Linked DNA regions of Homo sapiens: region 2 is linked to region 1. Evidence: fine-mapped expression QTL. A gene starts in region 1. The other region holds a variant in brackets. All regions are shown on one strand. Distances are from middle to middle. Region 1 holds the start of C5 (complement C5). Region 2 holds the start of CNTRL (centriolin).

Evidence for each region.
Region 2: its variant is fine-mapped to the expression of C5 in whole blood (INTERVAL, PIP above 0.99).

Annotation. Positions count from the first base shown.
Region 1 is chr9:121,047,123-121,055,122 of GRCh38, forward strand. C5 (complement C5) reads right to left here and starts at 3,153. Exons shown (of 41, transcript NM_001735.3): 1 at 3,060-3,153. The coding sequence starts at 3,124. LOC124902261 (a long non-coding RNA gene) reads left to right here and starts at 5,735. Exons shown (of 3, transcript XR_007061753.1): 1 at 5,735-5,983; 2 at 6,205-6,450.
Region 2 is chr9:121,071,612-121,083,205 of GRCh38, forward strand. It overlaps CNTRL (centriolin), which reads left to right and starts at 3,344. Exons shown (of 44, transcript NM_007018.6): 1 at 3,344-3,456; 2 at 8,695-8,867. It also overlaps a transcript of C5 not described here. RefSeq lists enhancers at 516-565, 2,919-3,308 and silencers at 2,608-2,804, 3,429-3,488, 3,609-3,748. The variant G/A (reference allele first, on the strand shown) is at 4,013.

The DNA of each region.
Region 1 (8,000 bases):
ACTTTACATACAGCTCTTGTTAATTTTTACAATAAGCCAATGATGCTGGTACTATCATTATTCGTACTTTGCAAGTGGTAAAAGGCTAACTTGGCTAAGGTTATACGGTTTGTAAGTAAATGGGGGAGGCCTTTATATGAGTTCTCAGTTGTTATGTGTACAGTTGAGGTCAAGTTTATATGTTATTCACAACCATAGACTGTTCTCTTATTTTTACTTTTCATGTGATTTATACAATAATGGAAGTGAGTCTATACATGCTTTTGAGTGATTTTTAAAAATTATTTTATTTAAAAACTTACAAATATAAACTGGATTACTAAGTGTATATCACAAGAGTATCTAATTTGAATAGCGAGAACTACATACGCTATTACATAGGAAAAAAAAGTGTTTTAACCCAAAAGGGCATAGTGATCGACTAATTCAAGTGGCCCAACAAGCTTGGAGGGCACCCACCACCCCACCTGGCAGAATTATTCCAGGCTTCTGCCAACATTGTGACATTTTAAGAGTCTGGTAAAAGCAGGAAGTTTTTAGTAACAATGGAATTAATTTATCAGCAATTAAATCCTTTAAAGCATCTGACAGTTATCCTGCATTACAATTAATTTGGATCCACTTACAGGCAAATTACAAAAGAGAGGAAAGAATTTCCAGATTTCCAACCATCATCTGAATTCCCCTTCCCCACATGCCTAGTAGGAGATGGCAGAAAATGAGAGGAGTTCAGTTTTTATGATAATAAGATATATTTACTGAAATTTTGCCCTGTGATAAGGCACTATTCTGAATACTTTATTTGTATAAACTCATTGTGTCATTACAACCACTCTGTGAGGAACTATTACTCCAATTTTAAGGTGAAGAAACTGCTAATTAATTTTCCCAAGGCCACACATATAGGATTTATGAATTCTATAATTCACAAATTATAGAATTAGAAATCGAACCTGAGCAGCCCGTTTCCAGAATTAACATTTTCAACTGTTGTACTAAATGGAATTTATAAAGAGTTTTGTAATTAGAAAAATTTAGGGATATAAAGCTACTTTAATTTCAGTATTTATAGAAGCTTTATGTTTTTAAGTTTAGTATTGCTTTAATTTTGAATTGTGTATGGTAGGGGTCCCCAACCCCTGGGCCATGGACAAATACCAGTCCATGGCTTGTTAGGAACCAGGCTACACAGCAGGAGGTGAGCAGTGGGGCAAAGGAGCATTACCACCTGAGCTCTGCCTCCTGTCAGATCAGTGGTGGCATTAGATTCTCCTAGGAGCATGAACTCTATTGTGAACCGCACATGCGAGGGATCTAGATTGCAAGCTCCTTATGAGAATATAATGCCTGATGATCTGAAGTGGAACAGTTTCATTCTGAAACCATCCCCACCCCAATCCTGGTCCATGGAAACATTGTCTTCCACAAAACCTGTCCCTAGTGCCAAAATGGTTGGGGACTGCTGGTCTATGTGATGGTAGCCGTCAAGCAAAAATACATAGTGTTTAGAAGCCCCTAAAAGAATATTCTGGAACCACCCTTTATAAAGATTTTGGTTCTTATTGACTTATCAGTAGCATAATCTATCCATATAAATAATTTCATAGTTTTCTTTGTCTTTCAATTGCTGCAGAGGAGCAGGAGCTTGCAGAGAGGCAAGAATGTTATTTTGGCCTCTATCTGGAATGCTCTTTCCTCAAATATTTGCATGGTTTGCTTCCTCACTTCCTTCAGGCTCTGTTTGAGTGCAGCCTCCTTAAGAGAACCTTTCCTGGCCACATTTTAAAATAGTGCCCCATAATTATTTTTTAATTCTCATACTCTGCTTTATTTTTTTCTTCATAATACTACCTACCTGACCTTACACATTCTTTCATTGGTTCATTCATTCATTACTTGCTTCTCCCACTAGAATGCAAGCTCTAGGAATTGTCTTACCGTTTGCTATATCTGCAGTGCCTATCATATGTTTAGATGCTCAATAAATATTTGTTGAATCAATCAATCAACCAATTAATTAAAGTGATTGATTGCCATGTTGTAAATGGTACACTCTGACTTCTTCAGAGAAAGTGAGGAAATAATTTTTATTAAGGGCTAGTAGAAAGAATTCAGAATAAGTCTGGACAAGAATCATGGAACCCAGGTCCTAGCCCTAGTTCTGCCACCAATTTGAAGTCACTTAATTTCAGTCTCTCTAAGCCTTAGCTGCTCGTCTTTCAAAAAGAATAAAGGCAGGATGCTAAGGTAGTTGAGTGCTTGTGGCCATGTAAAAAGATCACAGATCAGAAATACGAGGGTGCTAAAAAAGAATGACATCCTAAGTATGTGTTTATATATAATATATTTACATGTATACATTTATGACAAAATGAAAAAAATTGAAGTGATAAACAGGAGACCTTAATAAAAATCCTGTTTCTCTCTCTCTAGAACTGTGACCTTTGGTCAGTCACTTCCCTTATCTGGACTTATTCTCATATATAAAATGAATAGGTTTGATTAGATGATCTGCAGTTACTTTTCAGTATTAAAATATTTCTAGATATAAGATCATTATTTTTAAAACATTACTTAAAATGCATATTATCTCAATAATGACACTAAAAATTGTGAAAAGTCAGCTCATAAATGTATGGTAGAAGTCACTACAACAACAGATTTTCAGATCACAGTATTAGATTGACTCCTAAATAACCCTGGTTTAACTGTGTATAGTCTATGAAAAACACAAAGAAAACTAAACACCAAGTTAAAATAAGCAAAAAATGTCAAGAAAGTTTATTATCTGGAGTTTCTTTTGTGCTTTTTTGAAGAGGAATTTGAATAATCACTTAACGTAAATTTTAATAAATAACAATTCCATAAAAGCTGTCATGTTGTTAGCTACTCATCAAATCAAAATGCTTCCATGACTTTCTCATTCAGAGATGATACTATTCACTTGCTGTTCTCAGAAGTAGCAAGTTATTTTCAAGTTAACAGAATCTGTTAAATTTAACTCTTCATTCGTCATAACTAAGATGCATTGAAAAATGAAGATAGCTTGTTTTACTTACGTTTGCTCCTGTCCCCAGGTTTTCCCCAGGAAGATTAAAAAACAAAGTATTCCCAAAAGGCCCATGGTTGGAGGTAGCAGGAAACCACGGATATAACACTTTTGAGGATAGTCTCCTTTTAAATAAACTGAACTTGAAGAATTCAGATAATCTGGTTAATTATTAATGTCAGAAAGGTGAACCTCTAAGTGGGAAAACTAGAATTGGAACTAAAACACCCTTTCATGCCCAGGAATACAGATAGGGAGTACTTTACAGGAACTTACACCCAGGGAATTTATTTTTATTAATACAAATAAAGGGACCCTAAAATGGGAATTTGGCACTATGAAGAGTGGCTCAAAGCTAGAAACCAGTAAGCCCATTGCTTTGGCCTTTCTTCTCTTGCCCAGGGCATTTGCTTTGATGTTGCATCATCTGCAAGCATACATCTGGCAGGTCCACTCTAATACTGATGAAGACCCACCTGGACTCAGTTTCACACTGAAATGATTTTAGAAGGGGCCTGGTTTAGACAGGGCTCACAAGATGATCTTTTTTTGGTGACCTGAATGGCAGTGTCCTTGGTGCTGCAAATGGTCTGAGCATAACCTAGCTCTGCAAAGGAGGTCTAGGGAATTGTTCCTTGGTCTGTCTCAGTCTAGAGAACACTAGGTGGAGGAAAGTTGTGACTGGCAATGAAAACGCCATGTGGAGGATGCTGTCGTCATTCTCTAAGTATTGGAGAATAGATATTCTCCAATATTTATTAAGGCATATACCACTCGTTCAAAGTTTGTCTTTATTCAGATATAGAATATCTTTCTTTTAAAGAAAACACATGTTATACTTTTCAGTGAGGATTTTAATAATTTTAATATAAGAGCTCCAGAAAAACAAAGCTTCCTATAACAATTGAGTCTAGTAATTAATTCACAATATACTAAAATTTTATCTTTATACTTTTTTTTTTTTTTTTGGAGACAGAGTCTCTTTCTGTCGCCCAGGCTGGAGTCTAGTGGCACTATCTTGGCTCAGGGCAACCTCTGCCTCCCAGGTTCAAGGCATTCTCCTGCCTCAGCCTCCCAAGTAGCTGGGACTACAGGCATGTCCCATCACATCCAGCTAATTTTTTGTATTTTTAGTAGAGGTAGGGTTTCACCGTGTTGGCCAGGCTGGTCTCGAACTCCTGACCTCAGGTGATCCACCCACCTTGGCCTCCCAAAGTACTGGGATTACAGGCATGAGCCACTGTGCCTGGCTGATTTTTAATTAAGTTAATTTTTATGATGTTTTATGTTCATTAGAATTTTTTTATTTACTACCTTCTCTTTTTTAGTACTATTTTTACCTTAATATATAATATGTACTCTTCTTTAAAATAATAAAACAGATGTCTCTAAACATATTTCTATAATGAGATATTTATGATATATAAATGAGATATTTATGGTCACATTGGCATTCTTTGCTTTGAATTAATAAATAATAAACCAAAAATATTTATAAACACTTTAATGCTGAATTCACTAGGGAAAAAAGGAGCACAAAGGGAAATTTGATATACAAATTTCACTAAAGGTATCTCTTGCATATGTCATTGAAATGACAAACATTTGCCACTATTGTCTGATCATCTAGCCCATTTATTTCAAAAGGGAATCTGTGAAATGATTAAGCTGGGTTGCAAAAGATGGGTCAAGTTAAAACAAACAGTACTTTTGCCATCATTTTTGGGAAATGAAATTTAAGAGAGAACAACAACACTCAAATCAAGGTAGGTAATATTTGTATTTTAAGTGCAAATAAGTTTGTTTGCTTGAGCTATAGAGTAAATACTGATAACCAATATTTGCAAGCCATTGTCCTGTTTCTCTGGTAGAAAACATTTAGAGAATGATGGATCTCAAAGATTCTCAACAGAACTGAAGTTTAACAATTTATAGATTCTAAGCTGTGTTTAGTCAAAATTTTTTATCTACCTTCTAAATGTGGCTCACAGATGAACTTTTGAGGCTGGGCACGCTGGCTCACACCTGTAATCCCAGATCTTTGGGAGGCCGAGGTGGGTGGATCACCTGAGGTCAAGAGTTCAAGACCAGCCTGGCCAACATGGCGAAAACCCGCCTCTACTAAAAATACAAAAATTAGCCAGGCGTGGTGGCGGGTGCCTGTAATCCCAGCTACTTGGGAGGCTGAGGCAGGAGATTCACTTGAACCTGGGAGGTGGAGGTTGAGCACAGATCACGCCACCGCACTCCAGCCTGAGCAACAGAGCCAGACTCCATCTCAGAAAAAAAAAAAAAAAAAAAAGATGATTTTTTTTCTTTATAATTTAAAATGTGACCTTTGGTAAGCCTTTCATTTTTATACAAATACTGCATTTCTAAAAGAGAAGAAACTCAGATCTGGCAGAAAGTTTGGTGGTCACCTGACCTTCCTGCTAATGCTGCCTCAATTGTCCCCTCATGATTGAGCCCAAATGACCTAGCCTAGTGCACCAGGCCCCTCTTGAGCCCTGCTTAGTTCTCCAGCCTCAACATTCCATTCTTCACTCCGGCCAAGGAGCTGAATTACCTGATTATTCCCTGAAGTCACCTTGACACCAAGGTGCTCCTAGCAGGATAATAATTTTGTATCTTTCAAATGGATATTCTTTAGTTATTTTGTACTTACTTGGTAAAATATGTCTGGACACCAATTTTCTATTAATACAAACTACAGAACTCTTTTTTATGTATAATAAAAAGATTTTATCATGTATAATTTTCAAAATCAGACAGCTTACAGGGAGGTATATTAATGGGTTGTAAATTTAGAGAATAAAAAATAAGTGACATTGTGTTTGTTATTGTTTTCAGAAATTCAGCCCATCAGATTGCGAACTTCAAGTGCCTGCTGGCTGGCTAGAGTAAGAGAGGTGATGTGACCCATAGCTGCCCCAGGTAATTTTCATGTGCCTGTTCCATGTCCAGAGGCCAGTGGAGAAACAGAGGCGTCTCCTCAGAATTAAATTATTCTAAATGGAGACACGGGAATCATACAAGTTTTGTTCAAGAGTGGTAGGCTGGCACTAGGCAGGTGGGTTATTCTAAGTAAAACCCAGTATTTGTCCCTCTGACTGCTTTTTGGCTCAAGCCCGCAGTCTCACGTTTTAATCCTTTAGGAGAAAGGCTCTACTAAAAGGCCAACTGAAATCCAAAAAGAACTACTTCAGTAACTCTCCATGGGATATAGAGGAGAAAGGCACTGGAGGCTTCGGTGCCAGCAGTTTAAAGACTGACTGGAGAGAGGGCGGAGGTGGAGCAAGATGGCTGAATAGAACCCCCCCCGAGATAGTTCTCCACACAGGAACACCAAATAGAACAACTATCCACGCAAGACAGCACCTTCATAAAAGCCATAAAATCAGGTGAGTGATCACAGTGCCTACTTTTACCGTAATGATAAGGAAAGAGGCATTGAAGATAGGGTGGGGGTAGGGGGGAAGATCTCCCTGTATTGCCTATACCACCCCTCCTCCAACCACAGGCTGCACAGCAGGAAAGAGAATCCGTGTGCTTGGAGGAGAGAGAGCAAAGTGAGTGTGGGACTTTGCACTGGAAGTCAGTGCTGCCCCGTCATGGTGGAACATAACACAGGACAGAATTCTGCAGGCGCCTAGAATTCTGACAGTGCATTTAGGCAGGCCTTGGGACAGAGGAGAATTCTGTGCTCCAGAGGGAGAAACCCAGGTCATGGCTAGCTTCACCACTGGCTAACTAAAGTGGTCTGAGGTCCTGAGTCTATTTGAGTGGCAGTCAGGACACAAGGACTAAAGTGTGTAGACTAAACATAAAATGCTAAGCACCCCCAACTTGCCCCCTATTGACTGAATGAACTCCCACTTGGCCAAAGAGACCCCAGAAACATCTTAAAAATTGAATTCCTGGCCGTGATGGGAAGGGAGGTTAGACATGCCTTGTTATACCCCCTCCCTTTGGAGTTTAGGCACAACTGACCAGCATTCAAGTTAAAATATCATAAGACGGACAAAACAGACTCTGTGGCAATAAGATACCAAATTATAAACAAGACCTCAGGCCATTCATGCAAGGAATCACACCCTACAAACCATAAAATATCATTAAATGAGTTTTAAAAGTTAACCTGGTATAGTCCGGGCGTGGTGGCTCACTCCTGTAATCCCAGCACTTTGGGAGGCTGAGGCAGGCAGATCACCTGAGGTCAGGAGTTCAAGACCAGTCTGGCCAATATGGTGAAACCTCATCTCTACTAAAAATACAAAAATTAGCTGGGTGTGGTGACAGGTGCCTGTAATCCCAGCTACTCAGGAGGCTGAGGCAGCAGAATTGCTTGAACCTGGGAGGCAGAGGTTGCAGTGAGCCAAGATCGTGCCATTGCACTCCAGCCTGGGCAACGAGAGCAAAACGCTGCCTCAAAATAAATAAATAAATAAAAATAAACCTGCTGTAATATGGTTTGCTTTTCAACCTGACTCTGATATAGCATCACATGACAGATAGCAGACCCTGTAGGGAATAAAAATATTTTACCTCAAAATATATTTATTTGACATATTTTGAAATGGCCCTGCAAAGCTATCTTTTGTGAGTGAGATTTGCATCTGTAGATAATCTCCATTAATGCAACCAGGCCTTCCCTTTCTAGGCTTTTCCCAGTTCTGGCAGAGTTGAACTGAGAGTCTGACATCTCAAAGGTCTGCAAAGAGACAGACGTTTGCCATTGATTCTCTCGGAGGGCTGCTACCTATGAGGATTCATCAACGTAACAAGAACCTTGGACCCCACAACCTCCTTTAACTCAAGCATTACTTACTATTGACTTTAAGCCTTTAGACAATAGCTTAACCCTCTCAACCAATTGTCAACTGAAGAATCCTTAAGACCCACCTATAACTACTAAGTCCCTGCTTGGAGATGTCCTGCTTTTTTGGGCTGA
Region 2 (11,594 bases), 26 kb after region 1:
GAAGTCAAGGCTGCAGTGAGTTATGATTGTGTCACTGCACTGAAACCTGGGTGACAGAGTGAGACCTTGTCTTAAAAAACAAAACAACAAAATCACACTGGCCAGTCACAGAAAGAAATGGCAATAATGAAAGTTGCCATCCCTGTCTGACAAACTAGTCTGTTTCTTCTCTAAAACAAATTCGCAAAATGATTAAACTGGGTTGCAAAAAGCTGAGGGAAGTTTAAACAGAATAGCTTTGCTATCATTTGGAAAAAAGACTGAGTAAAAGCTTGGTCACCCTGACGTGGCTAATATTTGTATTGTAAATGCAACTCAGAGTACATTCTTCATAATATCAGATAAAGAAAAATAGTGTGGAACGCGAGTTGTCTGCGTTACTTTCGTATTCTCACTTCTGCTTTGGAGAAGGAAGTTCTTTTAGCATGCTAAGAGAGACAGTTAATATTCAAATTAACTGGAGAAAGGTCTCTCCTTTGAAGTCTCTAGCTTCGTTAGAGATGATGCTAGACACCAGCAGAGGTCTGTATGAGGAGGAAAAGGGGGCAACATGGGACCGGTGAGTGCCCATCCGCGGCTAACTGGATACGGACTGAGAGATCACCCAAGAGAAAAGTGTTTTGCGCCACCCTCTGGACTTTTTATGTATATTTGATGGCTATTAATTGATACTAATATGATTGATAATGAACTACATCAGCACACCACGGCTTGATAATGGATCCCACGTGAATACCATTACAGACTTTGAGGGACACAGCAATGAGGTTACGCAATAAATCTAAGTTTCTGGGTACAAGAAACCGAAACGATGGGTGTCAAAACATATGCAAATAGAACTGAAACTCAGCAACGTACACATTCCAATCTAATAAATATCACCTGAACTTCGATTAAAAATGAATGTAATCTCGGCAGGGCGCGGTGGCTCACGCCTGTAATCCCAGCACTTTGGGAGGCCGAGGCGGGCGGATCACGTGAGGTCAGGAGATTGAGACCAGCCTGACCAACATGGTGAAACTCTGTTTCTACTAAAATACAAAAATTAGCTGGCCTTGGTGGTGCGTGCCTGTAATCCCAACTCCTCGGGAGGCTGAGGCAGGAGAATCGCTTGAACCCGGGAGGCGGAGGTTGCACTGAGCCGAGATCCTGCCACTGCACTCCAGCCTGGGTGACAGAGCCAGACTCTGTTCAAAAAATTAAAAAAAAAAAAAAAAAAAAGAAAAGAAAAAAAATGAATGTAATCTCCTCTTAAGTGGAGCTTTTCAAAAATTCTGCGTTTAAACTCCAAGGGCTTCGTTCTGTGTCGTGTAAATAGTTGGGGAGAGGACAGCACCATTCACTTAAATGTCAATGGGAATCACATTTAAGTAAAAGGAAAAGGAAATCAGTAAATCAAAGTAAATCAAAGACACATCTGCATCCCCATGTTTATTGCAGCTTATTCCCTGTTGGACGTCCCCTGAATTTCCTATAGAGGTGAAGCCATCTCTGCCTTAAGGAAAAATGAAGTGCCTAATACTGCTTATAATATGGTCCCTTTTCCAGATTTAGCTTCTCCACCCCAGATTTTTGCACAAGCCATACTGAACTACTTCATGTTTCCATACTCATGTTTTGTTCCAGCCACACTGAATTACTTAACATTCAGCACATTGCCAAGCTCTTTTCCCCCGCTTCCGGGGTTTGCACAAGTTGTTCCCTTTGCCAAGCAAATTCTTCCCCACCTCCCTACTCCTTGCCTAAACTCTTCTTTTGGGCGTAGAAAGAAGTATTGCTTCTGGGTAACCTTTGTCTAATAATGAAATATCTAAGACATATTGAGAACTTACTATGGGTCCCTCACTGTTCTAAGTTCTTTCACAGAGATTCACTTTTATAATTATCAGGAAAACTGGACTTTTTTTTTTTTTTTTTTTTTTTGAGATGGAGTCTCGCTCTGTCGTCCAGGCTGGAGTGCAGTGGCGCGATCTCGGCTCACTGCAACCTCCGCCTCCCGGGTTCAAGCGATCCTCCTGCAGCCTCTCAAGCAGCTGGGATGACAAGCGTGCGCCACCACGCCCGGGTAATTTTTGTATTTTTAGTAGAGACGGCGTTTCACCTTGTTGGCCAGGCTGATCTTGAATTCCTGACCTCAAGTGATCCTCCCACCTTGGTCTCCCAAAGTGCTGGGATTACAGGCATGAGCCACAGCGCCCGGCCAGGATTCACTTTTATAATTATCAGGAAAACTGTAGGAAGTGTTAATAGGTAAAAGGACCTCATTTCATAGATAAGGAAACTGAGACACAGAGAGAGAGGGAGTTTCTAAAAGTGTTATACAGGTGGCCTATAAACTCTGTAGTGAAGAAAGGAAATGAAGACAGGATAGAATGATCGCGAGAAAATGGTAAGAACAAGGGACTGGAAGACGCAAGGAAGTTTAGAAATACGCTGGCATAGGGGTCTTTTGAGCAGGCACGCTGCTAAGATGATAGGATTATAGTCAAGGATGGGGAGCGATTGCACTGGGGATTTCTGGAGCGGGTGCAGCCTCTGATGGTAACATGGTCCAGGGTATACCTTCAAAACGGGAGGCTACTGGAGTGAAAGGCGTCAATGGTGATAACACTTTAAAAAAAACTTCAGTGTTTCCCTAGCATCCAGCCCAGTATCTGCTAAATTCTTTAAAATATCTGTTGAATGCATGTCGTGAACGCCGTGCTCATGGGCAAGCCCCAGATGAAGCCTGTGCAAGTGCTTCTTGCTTTAACTCCCTTGTAGCAATCAGAGGAACATCCTCTGCCTAGGATTCCCAAGCTCCCTGAACCTCACGCGACAGCTGGAGCCCAGGCTGCGTCCGCTTTGAGGTTCATCCGAGCCTGGGCAGTTCGGTCCCTGGAGGGAATTCGCTTTAGATACGACTGTCAGAGAGAAGTGTGCTGATAAGAACACTCGCTCATAGCGCGCAAGCATCAGAAGTGGGGGAGGCCGGGGAGGCGCTGCGCCGGTGCCTCAGGCCGTCCTCGGACACAGGCCCTGAGAAGCGTGTCCGTGTTTCAGAGGGTGGCGGCGGCAGCTTTGTCTCAGCGAAGGCCACAGCACTGCGGGCAGCTGCCGCATGAAACCTCGGCTCCCCCTGACTCTGCACCCGACACTTCACCTGCAACGCAATCCGAAGGCGAAGGCACCGCATCCCGTCGGCCCCGCGCGGCCGGAAGCCTCGCGCCCAAGACTCCCCGGCATCCTAGCGCGCTGGCTGCAAAAGAGGCGGGAAACGCCTCCGCGTCCCTTCCAACAGTACCGGAGAGGGAGAGGGGCGTGGCTGAGACTAGCCCCGACCACGCGCGCGCGGCCCCTCGGCAACCGGCACAACACAACAAAATGGCTGCCGCGCCGCTGGGCCCCTGAGGAAAGAGCCCGAACTTCTCCCGCTCTACCTCAGCCTGCGGGACTGCTCGGCTCGGCTTCTAGGCGGTGAGCGTCAGACCTGGCCGAGCCCGTTCCCCGGCATCCGGCCCGAGCAGTGGGGGCCGGCGGCAAAGGCGGGAAGGCCCGGACCGGGCGTGGTGTGGGCCGGCTTGGGATGGATTCGGGGCGGGGGCGCGTGTCTGGGAATTGGGATTGGACGGGAAAGAGGGGAGGGCCCGGAACGGGCGTGGGGCGGTGGATGAAGGAGGGAGGTTTGGATGGGAAGAGGTGGGGACGGCGGGGGCGATTGGGGATGAAGAACCAGAGTGTGGGGAGGTGTGGAAGTTAGGGTGCGGCGCCCAGAAGGTTGTGGGTCCTGCCACCTGAGCTGAGGGGAGAGCTGGGATGTGCCAGCTGTCTGTGGGGAGTGAGCGGGAGAAAGGACAGTTTGGGCGTCCTGACGGGTTGTCACGGTATCGGACGGAGTACAGTGCGTGGAGAAAGATGACAGGATATGGGGACGAAATGCTAAAAGAAGGGGAAGAACAAACACTTCCGTTATATTCGTTAAGGGACTAGAGAATTTTGAAGCCAGACAAACTTGGGTTGAAGCCTCAATTCT[G/A]CCACCTTGTGTAACTTAACCAGGTCTGTGACCCTGGATATGTGTCTGAGCCTTCCTGATCATGTTTCCTCATTTGTCCAAATAATTGCGAATCATTTTTGGGTGTTCACTATTTGTCAGATCCAGTTTTAAGCACTTTGCACGTATTAACCTCATTTAGAATTTAAAATAACTTGTATGAGGTTATCATCCCCATTTAAAAAGTGATAGCACTGAGGACCAGAGAGGTTAAGTAATTTGCCTAAGATCACACAGTAAGTGGAAAATCAGAATTTGAACTCAGGCTGTTTCGTTCCAGAATCCAAGCTTTTAACTGTTCAGGTACATTGCCATTTGTAAATCAGGTTAATAATTCTGATCCTATACAGCTAAATCTTTGAGGATTTAAATTTGGTATTGTCTAAGTGTTTAGTACAGTCCTTCAGTCAACAAATATTTATTGTTTATAGAACAACAGACAAAACCTCTGCTCTCTTGTAGCTTATAGTCTAGAAGGAGAAACAGGCAACAACCAAGTAGTTTCACAAATAATGGTTATAAAATGCTATGAAGGAGACTGCTTGGTGCAGAGATCATGGGTAATAGGGAGATAAAATCTTCTGCATCTTGAGCTTAGATTCTAGCATGGTTCTTCCTACATAAAAGTTGCTCAATAAAATTGAATAATTAATGGAAAGAGATGGGAAGCTTGAGTTTTAGGGTATCTGAGCAGAAGAAGAGAGATGGGAGAGGGGATTCAGGCTTTTAATAGGATGGAGAAGGATACGGGGGCTAGAGTATTAGGATGGAAAGGCAAATAGGCAGGCAGTTGGGTTGGGATGAAGAGGAATGGATGGAGGTTTGAGTATTTTGTTTAGGGAGGGGAGTAATTGGAGGTCAGAGTATTGGAACGCATTAGGATGTCAGGGTATTTTCTGGGGTGAAGAGAGATGAGCAGCTTGGGAAGTCTGGATGGATAGAGAAATGTTGAGTCTGGGCACAGGAAAGAACCATAGAGAAATGGGGGAGACTATTACTGTGTTAGGGAACTGGGATAGAATTTGTGGGAAAATTGGCAATCAGAATGGGATAAAGAAGAATGGGAGGCAGAGGTGGGTGGGCAGCACAGAATGGGGGAATTGGCTTTGGAAAGAAAAATGGCTGGAGACTTTGCAGAGGAATCGGAATCAGGATATTTGAAAGGAGGAGAAGATTAAGGAGTAAAAGTATTTCAGTAGGTCAGAGGGTATGGGATGAAGTAGACTTGGAAAGTACTGAAATCCAATTAAAGGGCTAAGGAGAGGGATATGGGGGTTAATAAATGGGGATGGGTATTTGCATATTAGGGAGTCTGTAGAGAGACAGAAGGAGGTCTGCGTTATTTGGAGATCAGAGAAGATGGGAAGTTAGGAAGGTTAGGAAAGGCTGGATGGAGGTGGAGTTTGCAGTCTGTACTAAGCTGTGATGGACTGAATTGTTAGATCAGAGCAACTATCTGGGTTTATAGGTGGCAGGATGGGTAGTGTTTTGTTGCCTGGACGTAGGATTCTGATTATCATGTCATTCCAATGGCTTTCTCTTGCTCTGCAGACAGCCTTTAAAATACAACTGCAGCTCTGAACTTTATTTGCTTTTTTTTTCTCTTTATCCTGCTCCTTTACTCGCCCTAGCCTACCTCTCAGTTGTCTTCATTTTTCCATTGCTTGCTTGGTCTTTGTTCATGTGATTGCAAACAACATCCTAGATCAAACTACATCCTCATCTCTCCATTAAAATTATAATTCAGCATTTACCACCTCCAGGCAGTAGCCTAAGAAATAATGCCAGCCATTCTCAAACACTGTAAACCCCTAAGCCCACTTCACTGAGTTAGCTATTCTCTGAGACTGATTACGTCTATCTTGTTTCAGTGTCCAAGCTTTACAGAAGCTGTGGCAACCAAGGGTTTAAGTCTATGAATGAGTAAGCCTGACTTTTACTAATCAGGAGAGGTAATAAAGGACCTCATGATAGTCTGGTGAGACCTAAAGGGTCTTGATCATTAGGATGTAAAAACTACAGGCTGGGCACAGTGGCTCACACCTGTAATCCCAGCACTTTGGGAGGCTGAGGCAGGAGGATCACTTGAGCCCAGGAGTTCAAGACCAACCTGGGAACTATAGTGAGACCCCCCATCTCTACAAAAAATAAAAAATTAGCCAAGCGTGGTTATATGCGCCTGTAGTCCCAGCTACTCAGGAGGCTGAGGTAGGAGGATCACTTGAGCCCAGGAAGGCAAGGTTGCTGTGAGCCATGAGCATGCCACTACACTCCAGCCTGGGTGACAGAGAAAGACCTTGCCTCAGGGGGGAAAAAAACGCCAACTACGTACTATACATACTATAATAAATGTCATCTTTTAATCCATTTAATTAGGAATAAGATTTTACCTAAGCACATGCCTCTTAGCTTTTCTCAAATTTTAGAGTATTATCCTTATTTAGAAGGAGAATGCCAGTGCAGCTTAGCAGCATCAATAGTATTACTGAGGGCTGGGCATGGTGGCTGTAATCCCAGCACTTTGGGAGGCCGAGGTGGGTGGATCACCTGAGGTCAGAAGTTTGAGACCAGCCTGGCCAGCATGGCAAAACCTCATCTCTACTAAAAATAAAAAAAATTAGCCGGGCGTGGTGCTGTGCACCTGTAATCCCAGTTACTCAGTAGGTTGGGGCGGGACAATCACTTGAACCTGGGAGGCGGAGGTTATAGTGAGCCGAGATCACACCACCGCACTCCAGCCTGGGCAACAGAGCAGGACTCTGTCTCAAAAAAAGAAAAAAATAGTATTACTGAGACTACAGATTAAACTCAATTTCTCCCACTATACGCTCACAACATGATTCCGTAGGATTTTCCCCCACACATTAAGCAAGCAGTTAGTTCTGCAGTGGTGGGCACCACAGGACTGTCCTCTAGTTCAGTTCAATTCTGACACTGTCTACCTGGAGACAGCGTCACATCCCTAAGGTTGAAGGCTGGCTTACAAGACTGCCCCCAAGTTCTGATGCCAACTGTAAGCCTCAGTTTTACCTGTGCTTCTGACTGACCAGCTATAAATCAGAGTTCCCACAACTCCCTCCTTGGGTTTGATTAATTTGCTAGAGCAGCTCACAGAATTCAGGGAGCACTTACTTACATTTACTGGTTTATTATAAAAGATATTACAAAGGATATAGGTGAAAAGATGCATAGCGTAAGGCAGGTGGGAAGGGGCGTAGAGCTTCCACACCCTCTCTGGGTGGATTCCCCTCCAGGACCCTCCCTGTGTCCAGCTTTCTGGAGGCTCCCCAAACCCAGTCTTTTAACTTTTTATGGAGGCTTCATTATGTAGGCCTGATTGATTACATCATTGGCCATTGGTGATCAACTCAACCTTTAGCCCCTCTCCCCTCCCTCTTTCTAGTGACCAGCCACGATCCTGAAGCTGCCTAGAGGTGGCTAGCCATCAGTCAACTCATTAGTATACAAAAAGACACTTACGATAGCAAAAGGGACTAAGACTAAGTATGTATTTCATAATATTAAAATTACTAAAAGACTTTTTTCCATGGCAAAATTGTGTTATAAGGCACAAAAATTGTTTACCACGCTTGAAATTTAGACCAAAAAGCCTTGTGGAAATGGCATAAATAGCAGTTATGTAACTTGGGGGAGTTTTTCTGATCCATATGTATAGTTTAATATGAGAAAATGAAGGAAAAAGTACAGATACATTTAAGTTCACAGTTTGAAGTACAGGTTGAAGGCCAGGTGTGGTAGCTCATGCCTGTAATCCTAACACTTTGGGAGGTAGAGGTGGGAGGATTGCTTGAGCTCAGGAGTTCGAGATCAGCCTGGACAACATAGTGAAACGCTGCCTCCAAAAAAATAAAAATAAAGTACAGGTTGATTATCTCTTGTCCAAAATGCTTGCTATCAAAAGTGTCTTGGATTTTGGATTTTTTCGGATTTTGGAATATTTGCTTTATACTTGTTTATATTTTTTACATTTATATTTAAATATTTCAGATTTTCAGATTTGGAGTGCTTAACCTGTAGTGAATGAGGCTATTGGAATGGGGCATTTGGCTATATTGTAATGTATGTGAAATAATAATCAACTTTTTAAAAACAAAAAAAGACGGGGTTTTTATTCCTTTCAAACTACTCACCTTGAGAGACCGGATCATGATATCAGAGATCCTTTCTTTGTATAAAATTTTCTGGGTTTCCTTCAGGATTTTTTTTGTTTTGTTTTTTTGAGATGAAGTCTCACTCTGTTGCCCAGGGTGGAGCGCAGGGGCACGATCTTGGCTCATCGCAACCTCCACCTCCCCAGTTCAAGTGATTTTTGTTCCTCAACCTCCCAAGTAGCTGGGATTACAGGCACCTGCCGCCCATGGCATCATGCTAGGCCATAGAGAACAAAGGAAACATAATCTAGACTCCAGGAAACTCAGATAGCTATATGACATGGTCATTAAAAACATGGGTTTTGAATTAAATCACATTTCAAGTTTTGGCTAAACCAATTAGTTAAGGAATTTTGGACAAATTATTTAAGATCTTCATCTGTAAAATGGGAAATAACACTTATCTCATAGAGTTGTTGTATTCAATTCTTTCAATATGATGATACACATAAAGAGCTTATCACAACATATATTTGTCTGTCTGTTTTTTAGAGACAGGGGCTCCCTGTGTTTCCCAGGCTGCAGTGCAGTGGCCAGTCACAAGGTTGATCATAGCACATTGTAGCCTGGAGCTCCTGGGATCAAGCAATCCTCCTGCCTCATCCTCTGGAGTAACTGGGACTGCAAGTATACATACCGTGCCTGACGAAATATCACAATATTTGGTGCGTGGTAAGCCCTCAGTAAATGTTAGCCACTAGTATGATATTCTTTAGAATTAACTTCAATCATCATCTTTTCATTAAATTTTTGGAAGTAGACAAAATTCATATGGAGTCAAATTTACTGAGTAAGGTTAGTGATCAAACTGGGAAAATAAAAACAAAGTGTACCTGAAGCGATGGACCCGATTTTCTTGTGAGACTTAAGAATTAGTTTGAAAGCAGAATCCAAAGAGGAATTCCAAAAATTGAATATATTAATAGATTATATTAGTGTAATCTCTCCTTTATATACTGTATAAGTTCTGTAGGGGAGGAAAGGGAGTAATTCCTTTCTGGCCCATCATAAAGGTCATGGCCAACACCCCTGTAACAAAGACAGGTTGACTAGAGAAAAGCATAGCAAATTTATTCGATCAAAGCTTTATGTGTCATGGGAGCCTTCAGAATGAAGACCCAAAAAATGCAGAAAAAATTATCCGTTTTTATGCTTAGGATTAGTGAAGTGTGGACAGCTGTATAGAAATAGGATTGGACAAAATGGGTATGATCTAACGCTAATAGACTGAGTGAGGAAACTCAGCAACACCTACCTCTCCAGATTTCTCTTGGCCTCTCTGTGCAGCATTCCTTCCTCCTGGGTATTGGGTAGGACCCCTATGGAATGAGAGTCTTAATTTCTTTATGGCCAGCTGTTAGAAAGCTGGGAGTTTGCAGGAAGTTTCTGTATAATCACAGCTTATATGTACCCATATGCTTGTGAAGTTATATTATCTTTTAATAGAGATATGAAAAACTCAAAATGTTCTTCCTACTGCCGTACCACACAGTACAATACTTGTGACATCAGACATGTAAGGGTTGTTGCCCCATACACCAGATACTTCTTCAGTGGACACCAGCTGCATGTCCTCTTATTCAGTTCAATTCTGACACTGTCTGCCTGAAGATAGCATCAGATCCCACAGGTTAAGGACTCAGTCCCACAAGAGTGCCACCAACTTCAGATGCCCATTACAAGTAGTAGATTGCCACCTATACTTCTGACCACCAAGCTATAAATTGGGACTCCCACTGCCCCCTCCTTGGGTTCAATTAATTTGCTTGAGTGGGTCACAGAACTCAGAGAAATACTACTTACATTTTCCCATTTATTATAAAGGATATTACAAAATAAACAGCCAGAGGAAGAGTTGCATAGGGCAAGGTACGTGGAAAGGGGTATGAAGTTTTCATGCTCTCGCCAGCATGCCATCTTCCAGACACCTCCACATGTTCAGCTAATTGGAAGTTCTCTGGACCCTGTCCTTTTGGGGTTTTATGGAGGCTTACTTATGTAGGCGTGATTGCTCACATCATTGGCTACTGGTTATCAAATCAATTTTAGCTGCTCTCCCCTCCTTAAAGGTTGTGGGGTTGGGCTTAAAGTCCCAACCCTCTAAACATGCCTTAGTCTTTCTGGTGACTGGCCCCCATCCCAAAGCTGTCTGGGTGTCACCAGTCATCTTATTAGTAAACGAAAGACACTCTTATCACTGTGGAGAACCCAAAGGTTTTAAGAGCTATGTGATAGGAAACAGGAGGAACATCAAATATATAGGTTAAAAGAGAAATTATCAACACATTAAATTTAACAGTTTAATTGAACAAAGAATAGTTCACAAATTGGGCAGCCCTCAGAACCAGAAGAGATTCAGAGAGATCCATTCTGCAATGTAGGCAGGCAGCATTTATGGATAGAAAAGGGAAGTGAGGTACAGAAATAGCTTGATTGGTTATAGCTCTGTGTTTACCTTATTTGAACATGGTACGATCACTTGACTGCCTGTGATTGAAGCTCAGCTGCTATGATTGGCTGAGACTCAGCTATTACAAAAACATACTCCTAAGTTAGGCTTTCAGTTAGTTTACCTTCTAAGTTAGGTTGCAGTTCATTATGTAGAGACTTAAAGTACAGAGGCACTTTCAGGCAAAATTTAGTTTAATTTAACATACAGTCATGTGTCCCTTAATGACAGAATTTGCTCTGTAAGATGCGTTGTTAGACAATTTCATCATTGTACAAACATCATAGAATGTACTTACACAAACCTAGATGGTATAGGATAGCCTGTTGCTCCTAGACTACAAACCTGTACAGCATGTTACTGTACTGAATACTTTAGGCAGTTGTAGCACCATGGTAAATATTTGTGCATCTAAACATAGAAAAGGGGCTGGGTGTGGTGGCTCACACTTGTAATCCCAGCACTTTGGGAGGCCAAGGCACGTGGATCACAAGGTCAGGAGTTCGAGACCAGCCTGGCCAATATGGTGAAACCCCGTCTCTACTAAAAATACCAAAATTAGCCAGGCGTGGTGGCACGTGCCTGTAGTCCCAGCTACTCAGGAGGCTGAGGCAGGAGAATCGCTTGAACCCAGGAGGTGGAGGTTTCAGTGAGCCGAGATCGTGCCACTGCACACCAGCCTGGGCGACAGAGGGAGACTCCCTCTCAAAAAAAAAAAAAAAAATAGAAAAAGTACAATAAAAATATGGTATAAAATGTAAAAAAAGTATACCTGTATAGAGCACTTACCAGATGAATGGAGCTTGCAGGACTGGAAGTTTCTTTCCCAGTTAGTCGGTGAGTGAATGTGAAGGTGTAGGACATTACGGTACACTACTGTAGACTTTATAAACACTGTACACTTAGGCTACACTAAATTTATTAAACATTTTTTCTCTCTTCA